Regions from separate parts of the Homo sapiens genome. Here region 2 is linked to region 1. A link means that fine-mapping ties the variant in region 1 to the expression of a gene that starts in the linked region. Tissue or cell type: whole blood. Region 1 holds a variant in brackets; the other region holds the start of a gene. All regions are shown on one strand. Distances are between the middles of the regions.

Region 1 (11,364 bases):
GTAACTACAGTAAAACAATAGAAACATTATTTCTTTTGGTTTTAAGATAAATATAAAGGGGAAAAAGTAATACAGAGATGTAAAAAGGAAATTTTGAATGCAGACAATGCCCTTTTTCATTTCTAATGTAGAAAAATGAGAGCAGCACTCTAGTAAGTTTGTGTGGTTTTACGAGAGAATGTACTAGTTTTATACAGTAATGTCATGTGAGTCATAGCCATAAAAAAACTACAATATGCCAAAGGTTTCTCAAGAAACTTGGTTCTAAGTCTATTAAAAATAAAAAAAAAATACTCTATAATACAGCAGCCTTTCATTGAGGATTTAAAAACCGAATAACTGAAGAGTTGAATAGTGTTTTATCCCACTCACCAATCTCCTCCAGCGGCTTCTTGTTTCCTTTCTTGAAGGAACTAGCTAGTAAGACATTGTAGCTTTTGAGGAGAAAGAAAACTATCAACGTACTAAGTAACTTTACTATTGTATGTGTCTAAACTACGCAAAAAAGAGGTTTACTAAGCAGAGGGCTTTCCTATCTCTACTAGCTTCCTATTTTATCTCATAAGGGTTTTGTGTTTTTAACTTTTAGCAAAAATGTGTCTCAAAGTGAGGTACTCAACTGTTCTAGAAATTGTTATAAAATTCAGAAATTGTCTCTTTAATAGAAATTTTTATGAAGTTCAGAAATAAAGCAACTTTCTTGTTTAAAACTGTCATTAAAAACAAAAACAAAAACCGCACAATGCTTATTGAAGATCAGAGTTCAATATTTTATAGCTACCTCTGAGAGGATTCCTCTAGACTGGGAGATTCTCCTCCTGAAATGCCTGTTACACAGTGTCACTAAACAACAACAACAACAAAAGGTGTTGTTCATTAGAAGCAATTCCACAGAACTCAAGGGTTCTATAAAATTTGTTTTCCTAAAGTATTGAATGAGACAATCTCTAAGGTCCACTCGAACTGAAAGTGTTTACATGAAAATTGGAGGTGAGAGAAGGAAAGAGAAAACTCAGAGGGCAGTAAAGAGAAGAGAGAAATTCTCTTCAATTTGTGGAGTACTAAATTTTACTTATTTAGGGTCTTTTTAAAAAACTGTATAGGTTAAATCAAGTTTTTATATTTTAAATCTCAGATAAACAGAGCTTCTTATAAAATCTCACCTGAAATTTGGGAGACAGGGTTCCAGGAAAGGAATATAGACTAGAATTACTGCCACAGGAATATTCTATCTTATCCTGATTCTAGCTATTAAAATTTTTGATAGGATAGTAGGTGATTTTTTTCTTTATTTTCTGTATTTTTCAAATATTCTTGGCAATTTTTTCTCCTATGCTCCTTCCTGCACACTGAGCCAATAGTTTTTTTAAACAAGGAAAGCTTTGACAAAGGCTAACTGTACTAAATTAGCTCAATGTAAATTTGGGAGTGTGTGGTTCTTTTATATGTTTTACCACCATATAATTTTTCTAAATATATAATTGTATGGCATTTATAAAGGATTTTGTTTTTATACCATTCATGTTCTTATATGTCTTTACATAAAAAATGAAAATCTATCCACAAGTTTTCCCGGTATTTGTAGGCACTCTCTTAACTTGTTTTTCCTGATCTACAACTTGATCATAAAGAATGAAAATGACAGTCAGCACTCACTGATGGGGGAAATCCTCCCGGTAAAATAAATACTGACAATGCTTCATATTGTAAAAGTTTTGTAGCCATATTTGAATTATTTTTAAAGATAAACAATTGTGTGTATATATAATATATATCTATATAATTATATTTGTATAGAATTAAGTTTAGAATAAAACACATCAAGCCCTTAGCAATTGTTATCACTGAGACATAAGGTAGAGAGGTTGAGGAGTACATTCAGTGTTTATATAATTCCACACTGTTTAAACAAATATATTACTTTTGTAATAATAAACCTAAAAATCTTTAAAACTTCAGAAGTAAACACATCTCTTGTGTTTATGGGGTCCACAACTGCCACTTTCTTAAAGTAAAAGAATCAGTACACAGGTTAAGTCCAATCACAATTTAGAAAAGCACAAGGTAGACTGGAAGATGTGGCAAAAGAGGACTTTGACACATAAGAGGACTTTGATAGAGACTTTTTATTACCATATTAACAAACTGAATTACAGTCAGGGTGGAGCCCAGATAGAGAGAGAGCAGAAGACAAATTCAAGAATTCCTAGGCATAGCTCTGGAAAAATGCTCAGGATGAATTCTAAAGAACCAAAATCACAAGTAGCACACATGAAGCCATCAAAATTCAAAAGGAGAAGTTATTTTTACTTTCGAACGCACCCTCCACTGTAATCTCAACTTGATGTGGAAATCTGGATAAATCACAACCTCTCTGGGATGTCTCTGTATCTACAAACCAGGAAGGCAGAATAGATGATAATAATATTTTAAGAGTTCTACCTTTAAGCCGCCCCTTGTAACAGTAATGATCTGAGAAATCTACAATATTAGAAGTACTTAAATTTTAAAACAATAAAAATAAATTTTAAACAATTTTTTGCCTTTAAATCTACCAACTTATAGAAAATACAGGAGCAGAGAAACATGTTAAATTATAGCTCAAAAATGTAATCAGGAAAAAACCAAACTAGGAAACAAATGACCTGTTTTCTTCAACAAATACAATTTAGTAAGGAAAAAGGGAGAGAGGGAAACCTACAGAATTTTTTTTAAAAAGACTTAAAAGATACAGCAATACAATTTTTTAAGAAACAATTGGGGAAATGGGAAACACAAGATATTTGATTTTAAGGAATTATTCATATTTTAAAATAATGACCTTTAAAAGAATCTTAATCTTTTAGAAATACACAATATACATGTATATCTACCTACCTATATAAATGACACAATGTTTCAGATTACAACATAATTGAGGGAGTAGAAATGAAACAAAATTGGCTATGAATTGATAATTAATTAAAGTAAGTGACCAGGATGAAAAGGTACACAATATTCTTCTCCATATGTTTCCATGTTTTAAAATTTCTTCCATAATGAAAAGATTTTTTATTTGTATTTATTATTTTAGAGACAGGGTCTCACTCCAACGTCCAGGCTGTAGTACAGTGGCATGATCATAGCTCACTGAAGCTTCGACCCCCTAGCTCAAGTGATCCTCTCACCTCAGCCTCCCCAATAGCAGGGAATACACACGTGTGTGCCACCATGCCTGGCTAATTTTTTAATTTCTTTTTTTGTAGAGATAGGTCTTACAACGTTGTCCAGGCCCACCCAACACTGTCCACTGCACCAAGCCAAAAAGATTTTTAAAAGAATGCTTATAAATAAAACCACTTACATGAGATAAACATTAATAAAAAATTACAACCTTTACCCCTCTAATTAATAGAAGCAGGTTAAAAACTGTAGTTTACAATCCATCAGTATGGTTGTAATATGGTTTGGATCTGTATCCTCACCCAAATCTCATGTTGCATTGTAATCCCCAATGTTGGAGGCGGGGCCTGGAGGGAGGTAACTGGATCATGGTGTGGAGCCTACATGAAAGGTTTAGCACCATCCACTTGGTGCTATCTCATTATAGAGTACTCATGAGATCTGGTTCTTTAAAAGTGTGTAGCACCTCCCTCACTGCCCTCCTTGCTTTTGCTCTGGCCATGTAAGACATGCTAGCTTCTCCTTCATCTTCCGCCATGAATGTAAGTTTCCTGAGGCCTCCCCAGAAGACGCTATGCTTCGCGTACAGCGTGCAGAACTGTGAGCCAATTACATCTCTTTTCTTTATAAATTACCCAGTCTCACGTATTTCTTTATAGCATCATGAGAAGGGACTAATACAGGCTGCTTTAAGTTTACATTTGGACACACTATATGGCACTAAACCTTAACTTGCATTGTCAGTCATTCTCCGAATCAAAATGCATCAGAGAAAAAAAAAAAAGATACAGCAAAGCTTTTCTGGGGGACAATCAATAAACTACACAATTAGTTGTAAAGTTATTGAAGCCCTAAAGAAAGAAGAGGTGGAAATTCTTAAAACTGACAAGCCAGAAAATAAATGGAAAAAACAAAATGGTTTTATAATATTCATACCTCATAAACATAAGAAGTTTTAGTTTCCAATATAGCTATCCGGTTACCCAAATAACATATCACAGGAATAAAAATATGAAGAGTTTGCTTTCACAGACATCACACAATTGGCCCAGGCATGGCGGCTCATGCCTATAATCCCTGCACTCTGGAGGCTGAGGCAGGAGGATCACTTGAAGCCAGGAGTTCAAGACCAGACTGGGTAACATAGGGAGATTCCCAGATTCCCGTCTCTACAAAAAATTTATAAAAATGAGCTGGACATAGTGGCACATGCCTGCGGTCCTAGCTACGCAGGAGGCTGAAGTAGGAGGATCACTTGGGCCCTGGAGGTCAAGGCTGCAATGAGTCATGATTGCACTACTGCACTTTGGCCTGGGCAATAGAGCAAGACCCCATCTTAGAAACAAAAACAAAAAACATCACACGATGATCAATTTTTCAAAATCAGAACCAAAACCGGCAAACCTGTTTTAATGCCTAAACAATTCCTTTTGAAGGAGTTTCTCAAATATTCAGGCATGAACATAAGCTAATATAAAGACTAAGCAAAAAAAGATTTTAAGAGTTCTAAATTTTAGAAATATTTAAATCCAAATATGCCACTATTTACCTTAAGTGGAACCAAACTAAATGTTCCAATTAGAAAATAAATGCTACCTAATTGGATTTGAAAGTTCAACTATACAGTTCAAGAGTTTCAACAAAACAAACAGATGCAGAAAGACTGAAAGTAAAGAGGATAAAAACAGTATAATATGCAAACTCTAATCCAAAGAATATTGGGAGTTATATTAATATCAAAGTAGATTGTAAGATAAAAAACTATAATTAGAAATAGAGTTATTTAAAAAATAAAAGTGGTTCAATTCACCAGGAAGATATAACCTAATAACATAAGATCAAAGTATATAAAGCAAAAATTGACAGAATGACAAGAAGCAGTAGATAAATGTGCAAATACAGTGAAAATTTTTAAAATACTTAATAGAAACAAACAAGGAGAATAATCAGTAAAGAAACAGAGTATTTTCATAGATTAACAAACTTTACCTAATGGACATGGAGAGAACACCATAACTGAAAACTTCACATTATGTATTCTTATAGCATACATGGAACATTTACAAAAGTTGACTTTTTTTCTGGGCCACAATGCAAGTTGCAAAAAATTTCAACACACTGTAATTACATAATGCATATTCCCGGACCGCGATGCAATAATGTTATAAATAATTAAAAACAGCCAGAAATTCCTCATGTGTTGGAAATTATAAACTGAACTTCTAAATAACCTATAGCCCAAAGTAGACTCATTATAAACGTTAAAAATGATTTTTAAATAGTGATAATAAAAAAGGCATATGGCATAGAAATAAAACAGTATCTGAAAAAAAATTTATAGCTTTAAATGCACTTAAAGGCAAGTTAACTGAGGAGCTAACCATCCAGTTCAAGAAATTAGAAAAAAAACTCATCAAAATAAACTCAAAGAAAGTAGAAGATCAGAAATTAATGAAACAGAAAAGAAATACATAATAGAAAAGAACAAAAAAGGCAAACCAATTCATTGGAAAAACTAACTATTGATAAATCTACAGTGACACAGATTAAGATGGGGGAGGGCAAGGGGAGAGAAAGGAGAACAAGAGAGAGGAAGAAGGGAAAGGAGGAGGGAAGGAGAGGAGGGAATAGGAGAAAGGAAAGGAGACGGAGAAGAATTGGGAAAAAGAGAAGAAAAAGACACACAACCATTATCAGGATGAAAAACCAATAGTACAAAATGGGGAGTCTAGAAATAGGCCCTCCTATATATAATGAGCCCTTCATATATGTATCAGAGGTGGCACTGTACAAGAGTGGGTAAAAAATTGTTTTCTAGTAATTGATGTTGGGACAACTGGCTATCTGATATGGTTTGGTTGTTTTGTCCCCTCCAAATCTCATGTTGAAATGCGATTTCCAGTGTTAGAAGTGGGCTTAGTGGGTGTTTGTTTCATGGAGGTGGACCCTTCATGAATGGCTTGGTGCCCTCACCATGATAATGAGTGAGTTCTTGCTCTGTTAGTTCACAACAAAGCTGGTTGTTTAAAGGAGCCTGGCATCTCTCTCATGCTGCCTCTCTCACCATGTGACACGCCTGCTTCCACTTCAGCTTCTATCATGATTGGAAGCTTCCTGAGGCCCTCACCAGACAGAAGCAAATGCCAGCACTATGCTTCCTATACAGCCTGCACGACCTCTTTTCTTTCCTTTTTTTTTTTTTTTTTTTTT[G/TG]AGACGGAGTCTCACTCTGTCACCCAGCCTGGAATGCGGTGGCATGATCTAGGCTCACTGCAACCTCCACCCTCCGGGTTCAAGTGATTCTCCTGCCTCAGCCTCCTGAGTAGGTGGGATTACAGGCGCCCACCACCACGCCTGACTAATTTTTTGTATTTTTAGTAGAGACAGGGTTTTATCATATTGGCCAGGCTGGTTTCTAATTCTTGACCTCAGGTGATCCACCCACATGGGCCTCCCAAAGTGCAGGGATTACAGGCTTGAGCCACCGCACCCAGCCAACCTCTTTTCTTTATAAATTGTCCGGCCTCAAGTATTCCTTTACAGCAATGCAAAACAGACTAACACACTATCTATATGAGAAAAAAATGAATACACTCTAACACATACACACACACACACATATACAAATCAGATGACTACACAACTAAATGTAAACGGCAAAGCTCTTACAAAATAATATAGAAAAATGTCTTCATAACATCAGGGTAGGGACGTTTTTTAAAATTAAGACACAAAAAGCCTTGGCCATAAAGCAAAAGATTAACACATAGGACCACATTACAACTAAGAATATTTGTTCATAATTTGTCCATTAGAAGAGTGAAATGCACTCCATAGAAGATAGCTGTAACACATTTATCCAACAAAAAGTTTGTGTCTAGAAAATAAAGAACTTCTACAAATCTGTAAGATAGACACTCCAATAGAAAAATGAGTAAATGACCCAAACTGGTACTCTGAAAAGGATTTCCAAATAGACATGAAAAGATGCTACATCTCTTTGACTACAAAGAAAATGCAAATTTAAACCACAATCAAAATCCATACATAGCTAGCACACTGACAAAATTAAAAGTGTGACAATATCAAGTGGTTAGTGAACATGAAGCAATGGAAGCTCTCATACATTCTTGGTCTGAATGTATACTGAAACACTACTGGGGAAAACATGACCTATGACCCAACAAGTTCACATCCAGGACAAATAAAATTTGTGCACCTAAGGACCTAAGTACCACACAAGTACATGCATAATATTCAAAGTAGCATTGTTAGTAACCACCAAAACCTGTTAGGAGCTTCAAGATCCATCAAAAGTAAAATGAATAGGTAAACTGTAGTAAATTCATTTTTTAAAAAATGATATATAATAGTTTAGAGCAACCACACAGCTACTACCTGCAACAACATGCCTGATTCTTGAAAGCCACATTGTGTGAAACCAAGAAACAAAGACATATACACTATATGATTCCATTTACTTAACTTTCAAAAACAGGCAATCCTAAATTATATACTTCTTTTTTCAACACACCATTTCTGGCTTGAATGAATTATATTCTTAAGGATGCATACCTAGATGAGCAAACCACAAAGTAAAGCAAGAAAGTGATTAGACAAAGAGAAAATAGTATTTACCTTCAGAGGGAAAGGAAGGGTTGTGATTAGGAACGTACACAGGAGGCTTCTGGAATATGGTTATGCTTTATTGTCTTAACCTCAGTGGGCTACAAAGATGCTTGCTTTGTAATAACTAATTAAACTACACAATTACGTTTTATGCATTTTCTGATGTGTTATGTCACAATTCAAAAGTCTTTAAGTTAAAAACATATCCTAAGTATCTCTAATTCTATTAATATCTAATGTGGATTTCTTCTTTTTTTCCCTACCTAAACCCTTCTAGTTTAATCTTATTTACAGTCTCAATCAGTTGTAGGTAACAAATTTCATAAGCATCTAAACTGACTTCAATGTGTTCTAAGGTGCTGGTTTTTCCAAGGAATTTCCTCTGTATTTCAGAACTGTGTAAAATAGGTCCATAGACTTATTATTTTATGTATAATCAATCTTCTGTATCCAGGGATTCTACATCTGTGGTTTCCACATATGTGGATTCAACCAACTATGGCTTGAAAATATTTAGGAAAAAAATGGATGGTTGTTCTGTACTGAACATGAACAGGCTTCTTCTTCTTGTCATGATTCCCTGAGCAATACAGTAGCACAACTATTTACACATTTACATTTTATCAGGTATCATAAGTAATCTACAGACAATTTAAAGCATATAAGAGGATGTGTGTAGGTGATATGCAAATACTATGTCATTTTATATAGGGGACTTGAAAATCCATGCATTTTGGTACCTGAGGGGCTCCTGGAGCCAAACTCTCACAAATACCAAGAAATGACTATATTTGCTTCAGCTTATGATTTTACAGGTTTAGCACATAACTCCTCCAGCCCTTTTCAACTGAAATTCTTAACCAGAACCACAACACAAAACATGAAGCTTGAAAATTTTCTCAATTCTCCCAAGGACAGTTCATAGGTAATATTCTACATGCACAGAAGAAAAGTTAATTTGTCGCATCATGATATTAGGGTGAGAAAGGTAGAGTGAAGAGGTAATCATTTTAGTTAACTTTCTTTGAAATTTTTTTAAGAAGAAAAATTTTTTTTGCAATGCAATGACAATAATTAAGGTGGTAAGTGAGGTATAAACCACCAGTTTCTGTATATTATAAAATTAAGCTGATTTCTTTCCAATGACCTTTCTGATGATATCTATCCAGTACTTGATTGACTTTCCACTGGCATCTTAGGCTAATTTTATCAAGGCACCAGTTTATTATTAATACCAACTTCTTTCCTAGTTCATTAGTAACATCCTGAATTACAGCATTTCATAAACCTAGTATGAGTTTGTCTTCCCTAAATGCATTACCTTACTCTTATATAAACGCACAAATTTGGGCAGTCTCCTACTCCCTCATATAAGTATAATAGGTTAACTAAGTTGCTCTGGCTGAAGCAGTCTGGAGACACAGGTGTAGAAATGTTTACAAAGTAGTTGGCAACAGAATGTGAAGTGTCAAATGTATTAAGAACATGACCCTGCTTAGAATAAATATCAGATGAACTTTAGAATTATTTGTTTATTTCTAAAAATAATTCAGAGTAGAGCATTTAAAAGAGCTCTGACCTTTTCCCAACAGACAGACATTAAATGGTAGCAGTGATATGTTAACTTCATTTAAGAATTTCTTACAAAAACTCTGCCAAAGATTTACAATGTAACCACCATTCTATACTTTCTAAACTGGCTTAAGAATATATGTTGTCAAATTTGACTTTAGAGTCAAATGTCTTACTCATTAGAATACTACCAATGTTATTGGAAAATGCCAGATAAAACAATAAAACTAAAATCAACTTGTCATCTACTGAAGACAATATGCGCACACATAACCTTTGAAACTCTGTAGCAAAGCCAAATTCTTCTAACTAAGAATACTTTTCTTGGAGCTATACCACAACTTTATACTGTTGGAAATTTTTCTGTGCTTATAAATCTACATACGAGAATACTGTGTTTCCTAAAACACCTTTCTTGGATTGTTTTATTAATGTTTTCTACCAGCAGTTAATATCAAACAAAGAGCTTCATTATTCTTAGTCACAGAAAGAACCAACTCAACTGTTTTATCAGCACTCAGACTATCTTTAGCAACAATTCCACCACTCATTTTTTTTTTCTCTTAGATAGGGTCTCGCTCTGTCACCCAGGCTGGATGGAGTCCAGTGGCATGATCATGGCTCACTGCAGCCTTAACTTCCCAGGCTCCAGTAATGGTCACGTCCCAGCCTCCCAAGTAGCTGGGACTACAGTCGTGCACCACCATGCCCCAGCTAATTTTTATATTTTTTGTAGAGACAAGGCCTTGCCATGTTGCCCAGACTGGTCTCAAGCTCTTGGGCTCAAGCAATCTGCCCGCTTCGGCCTCCCAAAGTGCTGGGATTATAGGCATGAGCCACCGCGCCCAGCCTTTCACCACTAATTTTCAAAACATCATATTCACTACACATTAACAGATGTTTTATTTCTGGGAACTGAAAATACATTTGTGTATCTGATTATTATGCAACCATTAAAAATGATTAAGCTCTTGCACCATAAGGCAGTGTTTTATATATTAAAAACTCTCTGCCTTATAAATGGCACTACCAACTGCATGTGCTAGAAATACAGAACATTTATCCTTATACTCCCTCATTCTACATCAAAACAATCAGTATATCTGGCTGATTTTACTCCTAAATCTATTTTGAATCTCTCTACTCTCTATCACTACCTATAGTCCTAGACACTATAATTTCTTTTCTGAACTATTATATTTACCTCCATACTCTCACCACCTAACAGTCCATTTGCCCACATGGCCTCTGAATGATCTTCTTAAATTACAAAGTTCGTATGATTCCCTTGATTCAAAAATCTTCAGTGGTTTCCCACCACTCTTGGGGAAAAGTACCAAAAACTTTACATGTATTATTTAGACCTTGCTTAGCTACGTCTTCAGCCTCAGTCCCTCGCTTTCTAGTTATCATTCTCTGCACTCCAGACATTTTACCTCTAACGCTCCAAGTTCCTTCCCTCTGCCTGCAACTGCACCTGTACAAGCTCCTAGCACCTCCAATGCCCTGCTTCCTTCTTTCACATGCCTGACTTGTATTCGTTTTTCAGTTCTCATCTTAAATAATACATATTCAATTTTGATTTCCCCACTTATATGTTCTCACATTCATACTTTTTTTTTTTTTTTTAGATATTCTCCCTTTATCACCCAGGCTGGAATACAGTGGCACCATCTCAGCTTACTGCAACCTCTGCCTCCTGGATTCAAGCGACTCTCGTGCCTCAGTCTCCCGAGTAGCTGGGATTACAGGTGTGCACCACCACACCTGGCTAACTTTTGTATTTTTAGTAGAGACAGGGTTTAGTCACATTGCCTGGGCTGGTCTCGAACTCCTGGCTTTAAGTGATCCATCTATCTTGGCTTCCCAAAGTGCTGGGATTATAGGCATAAGCCACTGTGCCTGGCTGACATTCATACTTCTTTACAGCCCTTATCGTATCACAGTTGTAACTTTTTTTGTGAGATTGTTTAATAGTACCCTCTATCACTAGAGTATAAGCTC
Region 2 (11,364 bases), 33 kb after region 1:
GGGGCACATTAAACCTCAGAAAACAGAATCTCTTCTCTTGCTGACCTTTTCCTGCCCTCCTTTCCACCAACCCAAGGCAGAACTCTAATCTTCCACAGCCTGTCTGACTGTGGGTCATAAGACCTTCCCTTTAGAAGGGAGCTTGCCCCAGACCCTGGAAGAAGGAATGCTGCAGACAGGCAGAAGAAGTTGGACAGGCAGGCCTTGCTGGGTTTCCCCACTGGGTCTATTAGTGCTGTTAGGTCATACTCTTTTTGTCCAATCACATTTCTACACAGTTGTTGACTGTGCCTATGTAATGAAGCCTCCATAAAAACCCAAAAGGAGTGGATTCAGAGAGCTTCTGGATAGCTGAACATTGGAGGCTCCTGGAAGGTGGCGCACCATGGGAAGGCATGGAAGCTCCATGCTCTTTCCCCTATCTCCCCCTATGCATCTGTTCATCTGTATCCTTTGAACATCCTTTATAATAAACCGGTAAGTGTTTCTCTGAGTTCTGTGAGCTGCTCTAGCACATTAATTGAACCCAAGGACGTAAGGAGTGGGGGGGTCATGGGATCCCTGATTTATAGCCAGTGTTATCAGAAGCACAGGCAAAATCAAAATAACCTGGGGCTTGCGATTAGCACTGGAAGTGGGGGAAGTCTTTTGGGAACTGCCCTCAACCAGTGGTGTCTGACACTACCTCCAGGTACACCGTATTGGAACCGGGGGGCACCCAGTTGGTATCTGCTGCAGAACTAACTGGTTGGTTGCTGTGGGGGGAGAAACCCCCAAGCATCTGGTCACAGAAGTCTTCTGTGTTAATTATTGTTGTGTTGAGTGAGAGAATTAAAAAATACTTTGGCTGTGATTTTACCCTGCTCACTAAGACACATCAATATTGAGAAGCAGAGAGAGTTTGAAGAAATATTTAAGAGGACCTGGTAATTAATAAGATATAGGGAATGGTAAAGAAGAATCTAAGATATCCACTAAGGTTCCAACTTGATTAACTGAAAACAGTTGGCAGAAACAAATTTCAGTCTCCTGCAACTCACAGAACTCAAGACCAGCGTGTTCTTTCCAACTTTAGGATTATATGTCGAGGCTTTAGTTTCTATTCCAGGTCAGACTATAAAGAAGGTTACCTCCATTACACTGACCTGAGCCCCAAAACTGCAAACACTAAGCAATATGCCACCAGAATTTGGGGAGGGGAGCAAAAATAGGAAAACCATGGAAATGGGTGGCGAAAGGATCCACAGCCTGAGATATGCACACTAATTTTTCATGGTTCCCAACAAAGTTTTGTCTCTCCCATAAAGGAGACTGACTGGGTACAGCTGAGGACCACATCTAATTCCCAAAGGTGTGTCAGTCAACTCTCTGTTAAGCTAAAAAGAAAAGTGGATATAAACTGGGTGAAAGAAGAAAAAGATTGTCAATGTCAGCAACTAGAGAGATGGAACAAAAGTCTCAAGAGCAACGATGGCAGAGAGGTGAAAATCTGAGCTAGCCATTTGTATGTAAGGAGCATTTTCATATAAATATTGTAAAAACTGTGCTAAGTACTAGTCACAGATTGAAACGTGAAAAGAGGCCAGGTGCAGTGGCTCACACCTGTAATTCCAGCACTTTGGGAGGCCGAAGTGGGCAGATCACCTGGGTCAGGAGTTCAAGACCAGCCTGGCCAACATGGGGAAACCCCGTCTCTAATAAAAGCACAAAAATTAGCCGGGCATGGTGGCGGGCACCTGTAATCCCAGCTACTCAGGAGGCTGAGGCAGAAGAATAGCTTGAACCCAGGAGGCAGAGACTGAGGATAGCTGAGATCGCGCCACTGCACTCCAGCCTGGGCAACAAGAGCAAGACTGAGCCTCAAACAAAAGAAAAAAAAATGTGAAAAGGAATTTCAACATAACTTATTCATTTACTAACATTTATAGAATAGCTAACAATGTACCAGAAATTATAATAAATATGAACACAGTTTTTATTGTATTAATGCCATTATATTTGTATAGGCCCTACAGCTTTCAGTAGACTTCAGCATAAATTACATTATACATTTTCCTCAAGAGGGATGCTGTAATAGCTTTCTAAAAATTAGTATGTATTCCAGCCCAGTGCAGTGGCTCATGCCTGTAATCCCAACACTTTGGGATGCCGAGGTGGGCAGATCACATGAGGTCAGGAGTTTGAGACCAGTCTGGCCAACAGGGTGAAACCCTGTCCCTACTAAAAATACAAAAATTGGCTCGGCACGGTGGCTCATGCCTGTAATCCCAGCACTTTGGGTGGCCGAGGCGGGTCGATCACCTCAGGTCAGGAGTTCAAGACCAGCCTGGCCAACATGGTAAAACCTTGTCTCTGCTAAAAAGACAAAAATTAGCCAGGAGTGGTGGCGCGTGCCTGTAATCCCAGCTACTCCAGAGGCTGAGGCATGAGAATCGCTTGAACCCAGGAGGCAGAGGTTGCAGTGAGCAGAGATTGCACCACTACACTCCAGCTGGGGTAACAGAACAAGAGTCTATCTCAAAAAAAAAGTCACTACTATACCATAGGAATTAGTGTGGTCTACTGATTACATTAGCACTGGGCAAGGTTCAGTTTAAATCAAGTTCTCAGAGTACCCAAAGTAAAATCAACATATCTAATCCTTGCTATACTGACCTAATTTTAAACTGATTTTATAGGATTACTTTTCTTTCTTCCAATACAGTGATTCATCTTCTGCATTTAAGGTCGATATTAGAGATATCTAAAAGGATCTATGATGAATGGATAAAGAAAATGTAATATATATACAGAATGGAATACCATACAGCCTTTAAAAGGAAGAAAATTATGTCATTTTCAAAAACGTAGATTAACCCGGAGGACATAATGCTAAGTGAAATAAATAAGACACAAAAAAACAAATACTGCATGATCTCACATATGTGTAAAATCTAAAAAAAAAAGTCAAACTCAGGGAGGCAGAGAGCAGAATGGTGGTCTACAAAGGCTAGGGAGAAGGGGGAAAAAGGAAAGGAGAGAGGTTAGTCAAAGAATACCAAGTTTCAGTTAGAGGAGTAAGTTTTAGAGATCTATTGCATGCCACGGTGACTATAATTAATAATAATGTACTATATACCTCAAAATTGCTAAAAGTTAATTTTAAACGTTCTCACCACAAACAAATGGCAAGTAGGTGATATGATGGACGTGTTAATTTGCTTGATTTAACCTTTCTACAAAATATACATTTATCAAAACATCACATTGAACCCCATAAATATACACAATGATTATCTGTCAATTAAAAATAAATAAAAACAGACAAAAAAACCCAAATTCCTCAGGGGCAGCGGGTATAAATGCTAGAGGCTTTCAAGAGGACAACGGAATAAACACACATACAAATATAACACTCAGATTATAACAAGGAAGAAAGATAAAACAATAAACCAATAAAAAGTTGCTGTGGAAGACAGAAACTTTGAAAACTAAATAGTCTTCATGATTTTAAAAGACAGAAACTGTTCGATTATTTCTCACAAGAAATAGCAAGAAATATATTTATTTAACTTGGTTCCAGTCAAAGTTGCAGATCAAATCTCTCTGGATTTCAACAATGAAAGTGAGGCAGTGGGGTTCAATCTCCATATTAAACTTCACTGAAGATTTATCTTTAAGAACCAAAATGAATCACAGCTACAATGTTTATGTACAGATGTGAATGTGCATATTTAAAAAATTAAAATGTTTATTAGAGTAGTAAGATTATGAGTATTCCTTTTAAAAACACTGTTTCCCAGACTCTCTGTAATTTTACATTGCTTTTATAATTGAACCTACAAGCCACGTCCCTCCTTGTTTTTCTCTAGCATTTTGACTATTCTAAACTACACTATGGTGCAGCAGAGAGCAGGAACTCTGAAATCATACTCCCAGGCTTCAGTCTCAGTTCTGACAGTTACTGTAGGGCAAGTTAGTTAAATTTTCTGTGCCTCAGTTTCTACGAATGTAAAACGGGATTAGTGAAAGTACCTACTTCGTGGGGTTAGTGTGAAAATTGAGATAATTCACAAAAATTACTTGGAAAAGAGCCTGAAAACACAGAATGCATTCAACAAATATTAACACTTATTATAAAATATTATACATTTTAGATCACTGCTGACAAGTTTGACTACCAAACTAAGTTGGAAGTTCTACAAAACAGCGATAGTGGCCAAACCCCACAGGATACTGCTTTGATATAAGACCCACCACAGAGATCAAATCTGGCTTCCTGAGCCGTCTGAAAATTATGACCAACATGTCACAACAGGAAATGGAAAGCCTACCACTAACATGACCTGGAAAATAGCCAATTTACTAACACAAACCCACAACATCAACAAATCTGTTCCCCTGAACCACATCTATCCAAAAGTAGTTTAAATATTTACATTCTTAATGAGCTATGTATGACTGATAACACATACTGAAGTACAATTTCCAAGTAAAAATGTAGGTACTATACATTCATATTGACTTCTTAAAATAATGTGACTCATCATTCAAGTAAAGCAGCAAAGTTTTCGAGGTGCTGAGGGGAGTAAGGGGTGGGAAGGGTATGCAATCTGTGATGAATTCTGCCAACAGTGGCTGTCTGTATTAACCAGAGGCCATATACGCATATTCAAGTTGAGAAAATATCTGTAGGTCACACACATGGTTTTTAAAGCCATATTATAGAACAAGACACTGAATAGCAGCAGCACCTTTTAAGATGAAAGTCAACAATTTATACACAAGCACTTTAACTCCCATATGTACTCCTGAACTGAACAAATATTATTTTGTAGTGACTCACAAAGGGACGCAGTTATTTCCATACCGACCTCATAAAAAAAAATCTTCTAAATTAACTCTTTAAAGATGAAAGTAAAAGCATTTCTGGAAAGATTCAACAATTATACAAGCCACAATGATGCTGCAGTAACTGAACTGCATAGCTCCAAAAGTTTACGTTTGTAGAACTGAACTTTTGAATTATATATCTGTGTAAAAGGTATGGTCGCTGTTGATTCAATTCCATGAACAGGAATTTCTTTCTAAAGGAAACAGAAATCTCAGTTTCTAATATGCACAATGCATATGTAATTATCTTCTATATGCTCCGCAGTTTTAAAATGCCATACAAACAAAGCATACCACATGCAAAGTCAATTTCTGAGATTCTAAGGCAGTTTCTGGTCAAGTTTAAGATCAAACCACAAATATATATACACAAAAAATATTTTACATACATATATATCTAAAGATAGAAAAACTGAATATTATTTTTAAATTGGGGAAAATTTAGCGAAAGTAAAACCCACTCCTCTAAGTTTAAAGTTAATCTTCTCCTGGAACCCACTTCCATTTTATTCAGAGGTCCTTCGACGGTTCCTGAAGCAGATGTGTGAAATTTTAAAGAATGTCTGAGGGTATATACCTAATCAGGATGGGTTAGCATCCCAATTCACGATGTACCTTTCAACATTATGTAGGTACATTGTAAGAGAAACCAAGATGAGCGCTGTGGCCTCACAGTTGACCCAAAATCTGTGAACAGGAGAGCTGACAACTCTTCGCTCATACAATGCAACTCACCTCGCAGCTCAGAGACATAGCAAAATCGGTGGCTGTTTTTTGCGCTGCCTTTGGATTCTGCATCTGTTTCAAACCTAGAACCTAGCTACCCTCGGAGCTCCACCGAAGAAAGCCTGACACAGCGAAAACTATCGCGATTTAAAAGATACCTGACGTTTTCTACCGCAGAGGTTACGAAAATTTTGCCCGGTGGGACTTTTATTGTCCTCCTTCAAACACGGGAGCAACATGAAGTTAAATCCTCTCGCTCTGGAGATCCCTAGAGTCAACCTGCTTCTGCCCAAAATTAAAAATAAAAATCTCCAATCTCACTTCCCCCTTAAGACTAAAACTGAATCCATGCTCTAACTCGGGAGTAAAGTAGGATGGCTTTCAACCCACCACACCCTCCTTGCTCATTATTCCGGGTCACGGGCGAACTAGAACACTGGGAAAGGGGCTGCAGGTTCCGGACCGGACCGGCCCTGACCCACGGAAGGGGAAGAGAAGCGGCAGGAGTCAGGAGCCCGAAAGGTACGCCCCAGCGTCGACGCGTGACGTCACTACGTTGACGTGAACGGCCGTTCAGCGTCCGGCCGTCCCAACACCTCCTCCTCCGGCCACTCGCTGAGTAGCGTCGGCGCCTATTGGGCGGCGTGGGAACGGTGGGCGGGCCGGGACTGGGTCTCGAGGAGGAGGAGGGGTGCGAGGTGCCTGGCTCTGAGGGCCGCCGGGGCTGTGAAGCCTGTCATTAGCGATTAGCTCACGTCAGTCACTCACGCATCCCTGTTTGCCCTGCTGCTGACCTCGCGCGAGGCGGCCACCTTGTGGGAGATGTTTTCGTGAGGCAACAGACGCTGGCCGTTCCCAGCGTCACGCAGAGTTCGGATCCACTCTAGCGAGAGACCACAGCGTCCGGGAGCAGCTTGTGAAACTCTGGCGAGCGTCAGCCTTGAAAATAAAAAGTATTGGCAGCCGTCGACGAGCACAGGTTCCTAAAACTTAGATCGAAGAGAAGTACCAGCCTTCAAAAATAAACCAGCACCAAAAGCCCCCTGTGCTTATAGGTGACGTGCGGGCTGGGAGTGCAGTGGTGTCACCTCGCCTTGTATGTCATCGCCGGTTGTGTGCCTAACATACATACAAAAAGGATAACTCGAATTTAGCCATCACGCATTTTCAAAAATACTGCTTGGAAATTGAATGTTTGGAGAAAAGATATAATCTGGGGTTTCTACACGGTCTGAATTGGGTTCATTTCCGTTTAGCAAACATTTATTGAGCTCCCAGCGTGGGTCACAGAATTCAGTAAACCTGATCCCGTGTTCAAGGTGCTATATTCCGATGCAGGGCAGGGCGATGCAGTGAAAGAATGGTGGCCACAGCAGTAGCATGCTAATAGCCTGGTGGGCAGGTACAGGTTTTGCATTTCTTTGGCGAGATCACTTTTGAGTGTCTCCACTGGGTGGCAGAATTAAGACCCGTGAACGTTTAATATCTCCTGTATATTTAGTATATTATGAATATATACTGATTAATGAATATTAAGTGCGTGTTGTATATCTTGTGCCTCATGAATATTAAATATGACCTGGTCTTGCCAGCCTTTTCTATTTTTACATATACGTGCTCCACCGACTGTTTTGCAGGCTAGGAACACGTGAGTTTTGTTCTCCTATTTCTTCTAGGGCAGCATTGAATATTCTCAAAGACAGTTCTGGGCTTCAGAGCTGGTATAGTGCCCATGGTGGTGATCACAGTGCGGTCAAGCTTCTTAGGACCTCTTTCATTACTTTTATCCAGGTAGAGTTTGTAGAACTATGGAAATACCCAAGCACGATTTTCTCTTACCTGGGACACTGTTGGCCAAGATCTTTAGATTCTTCTTAGAAAATGTGGAAAAGCAGGCAAAAATTTTTCCAAACCAAGTGGAATTTTTCACAAGACATTTACTCACATTTTTTTTTCTCTCTCACTGTAGTTACGTAGCTAATTTTGGAAAGGCACATGGATTTTGAGAATGTAGACAGTAGTTGTGGTCTATTAGTCAATCTTACCTGCTTTCTATAAGGATGAAAAATTATTTCATGGTAGTGTCGTAGTTTCTTAATGGAGGATTGTTCCAAGGATCTCTCTTAAGTGTGCAAGAACAAGTCTATTTGTACGTTTGGTTTTTTGTAATATTATCCCTATTATGTACTACCTTATTCCTTTATAAGAACTTAAAGTCATGGTCTCTGGCATACATAATCATCGCACCAGTAGTTCTCAATCTTCACTTTGCATCAGAGCCATCTAGGGAGCTTCAGAAAAATATCCTTGCTTAGGTCCCACTCCCAGAAATCCTGTCTTAATTGTTTCAATGTTGGACCTAAGCATTCCTGTGTTTAACTCTTCCCAGTTGATCCAAGGTGCTCAGTCAGAAACACTGTGTTACATATGGGGCAATATATTTAAACAATGTGGTATGTGATTGCTTGGTGATAAAACAATAGATCGCATCTGGGAAAAAACGTTCTCTGTAATTCCTCTGGTGTTTTTGTCAGAGAATCTGGTGATGTTGAACTTCCTGTTCAACAGACTGGTGGGAGGAAACACAGGGTAAGCACCATAGCCAGATCTTTGGTACATTTTAAGTGCCCTAATGTGAATACTTTCAGCCTGATCTCATTCCATCGTGGTAAATACTACAGAAAGGATGCTGATTGATTGGCATTCTTACCACATCCCTTATTTTAGTGGGAGTGATTAAGAAGGAACTTCTTAGGGCTGAGATAATTCCCAGTAAGGAGGTTTACAGATCCAACTGTGGGCTTTTCTCCCATATGAAAATAATTTAACAGCCCACCTGATCTCTGTACCGTAAATAACTGCTCCCAGAACCCTAAGAAGAGTTTGTATTAGTATCCAAGTGCTGTTGTAACAAATTCCCACAAATTTAGTGGCTTGAAACAGTACAAATTTTTGATCTTAGAGTTCTGTAGGGTAAAAGTCTGACATAGGGCTCACTGGTTAAAAATCAAGATGTTGGCTGGGCAACCTCTTGGTGCCACATGTGGTGGCTCACGCCTGTAATCCCAGCACTTTGGGAGGCCAAGATGGACGGATCACCTGAGGTTGGGAGTTCAAGACCAGCCTCACCAACATGGAGAAACCCCATCTCTACTAAAAATACAAGATTAGCCAAGTTTGTTGGCACATGCCTGTAATCCCAGCCACTTGGGAGACTGAGGCGGGAGAATCACTTGAACCCGGGAGGTGGAGGTTGTGGTGAGCCAAGATTGCACCATTGCACTCCAGCCTGGGCAACAAGAGCAAAACTCTGTCTCAAAAAAAAAAAAAAAAAAAAAAAATCAAGGTGTTGGCAGGGCTGTTTTCTTTTACAGGCTCTAGGGGAGAATCCACTTCCATGCCTTTTGCAGCTTCTAGAGGTCACTTGACTTCCTTGGCTCATTGTCCACTTCCTCCATCTTCAAAGCCAGCAATGGAAGGCTGAATGTTTCTCATATCATATATAAGTCCCCCTTGCCATGTAATCTGATATATTCACTGGTTCCAGGGATTGGGGCGGTGGGGCAGGGGGTGTTATCTTGCCTACCATAGGGTGCTTAAATTCATCTTTTAACCACAAGTCTCAGTATGCATTTTTTAAAAGGCCCCCAGTATACAGGAAGTATTTGGAGACACAGCAAAATAAGTTATGTGAAAAGGGTCAGTTTCTTCCACTGTAAATCAGATTTTTGGGCTAGGACTGGTTGGAGTTTAAGTTAATAACGAATACTCAACCAATATTTAAATTAGCTTCACACTTCTGCCACCAACCAACCAACAAAACTCTTGGGGCCTCAAGGAAAGGGAAAAAGGACAAAAAGATTGACTCACAGTGTAAGAGTTTACCAATTACAACCAGGTGTAGGATAGCCTGTTCACTAGTATATCTGGAACCCTGGCAGATTGAAACAAGAGAAACAAATGATAGACATTACCAGTGAGTGGAGGTGGTATAAACCTTGCCCTCTGTCAGCAATTCTCTCTCTGGGAGTGGCAAGTTGGATGATGCTATTTTATAGAAGTGGCAAAGTAAAGAGCACTGGGAATCATATCTCAGTTTCTTCTATCTTGCTCCCTGGACCAGTAAAGTTACTCTGAACTTCCCTTGAAATAAAAAAACCTAGAAATAGGATTACTTACCATAACAACTTAAAAGAATACACTTAAAAAAAGTTGCACAGAAAAACCAAACAAGATTGTATAGCTCTACTTCATGTATTTATGAGTTGTTTCAGAAAAAGAACTTTGATCTTGCCAGGAGCGGTGGCTCATGCCTGTAATCCCAGCACTTTGGGAGCCTGAGATGGGTAGATCACCTGAGATCAGGAGTTCAAGACCAGCCTGCCGAACATGGCGAAACCCCGTCTCTACTAAAAATACAAAAATTAGCTGGGCACGGTGGTACGTGCCTGTAATCCCAGCTACTCGGGAGGCTGAGGCAGGAGAATTGCTTGAACCCGGGAGGTGGAGGTTGCAGTGAGCCAAGATCACTCTACTGTACTCCAGCCTGGTGACAGAGTGAGACTCTGTCTCCAAAAAAAAAAAAAAAAAAAAAAAAATTAGCCCAGTGTGGTGGTGCATGCTTGTACTTCCAGCTACTCAGGAGGCTGAGGCAGGAGAATCGCTTGAACCTGGGAAGTGGAGGTTGCAGTGAGCCGAGAGCACGCCACTGCACTCCAACCTAAGTGACAAGAGTGAAACTCTGTCTCAAAAATAAAAAGAAAAGAAAAAGAACTTTGATCTTATTGTTTATGTTTCAGACACATTGGAAAGAGAGAGAATAGAAGGGATTAAAACATTCTATTATGAAAATAGTAGCATGGTTCTAGTCTAGAATTTCCTCCTGATTCCACTAACATCATAGAAGTGAAAATGACCTTTTCTTGTCTTTTGTCTTTTCCCCAAAAATAACAAGAAGTTATCCGAAATAGCTTTGCACTTCTAATTACAATTCGAGACCTTTGACATGGCAAACAGTCTTCCAGTTTAGTGTGATTGTTTCCCACAAAACTGCCTCAGTAGGACTTGATACACTCAAAGCTCTTTCAGCCAATCATATCCTGAAAACAGTCTCATGAAGTGACTCATTTCTCAGGCTGCACACAACTAAGGGCACAGTGTTTTGTTTTATTCATCCTAGATACAGATTATGATCATTCTTTTCAGGTGGTGGACTCATCTGTGAGCCCTGGCAGGTGACCCAATTCAGAAAGCCAGAAACTCAAAAGCTGACTAGATGTTTTATCTTTGCATATGGAGCTGGGCCTACCAGATTAAGATCCAGAAATTCAGTAGGCTGCTACAGTTTAACTCGTAGCTATGCAGAGTTAACAGTGAGTTCAAACCACATAAGGCTAGAGTAGACTTTCAGGAACGTGGCTTAAATAACTAAAAATTTCTCGCCTAGAATGTAGCAAGATGGAGTACTAAATGCCAAGACATTGACTTTTTTTTCTCCCTTGGATTTGAATATTACATGTCTGTAAAAGATCTGGATTTTAGAGAATGCTTTTCTTCATATTTAGTATTTTAGGCCCTTCTCTAATCACAAAAGATTGTAGGTAAGTATGCATATTCTCACTCATAGGTGGGAATTGAACAATGAGAACACAAGGACACAGGAAGGGGAACATCACACACCGGGGCCTGTTCTGGGGTGGGAGGAGGGGGGAGGGTTAGCATTAACATGTTAAATGACGAGTTAATGGGTGCAGCACACCAACATGG

Evidence for each region. PIP is the estimated chance that this variant, and not a neighbour inherited with it, causes the effect.
Region 2: CLCN3 starts here. The variant in region 1 is fine-mapped to the expression of CLCN3 in whole blood (INTERVAL, PIP 0.91).

What each region holds. Positions count from the first base shown.
Region 1 is chr4:169,648,649-169,660,012 of GRCh38, reverse strand. The region is part of intron 2 of CLCN3 (chloride voltage-gated channel 3); the gene reads right to left. Among named protein-coding and RNA genes, the nearest start is that of CLCN3, 34 kb to the right of the region's middle. The variant G/TG (reference allele first, on the strand shown) is at 6,373.
Region 2 is chr4:169,615,307-169,626,670 of GRCh38, reverse strand. It overlaps CLCN3 (chloride voltage-gated channel 3), which reads right to left and starts at 6,093. Exons shown (of 13, transcript NM_001829.4): 1 at 5,608-6,093. RefSeq lists enhancers at 5,636-5,745, 5,936-6,165, 6,236-6,285, 6,846-6,915.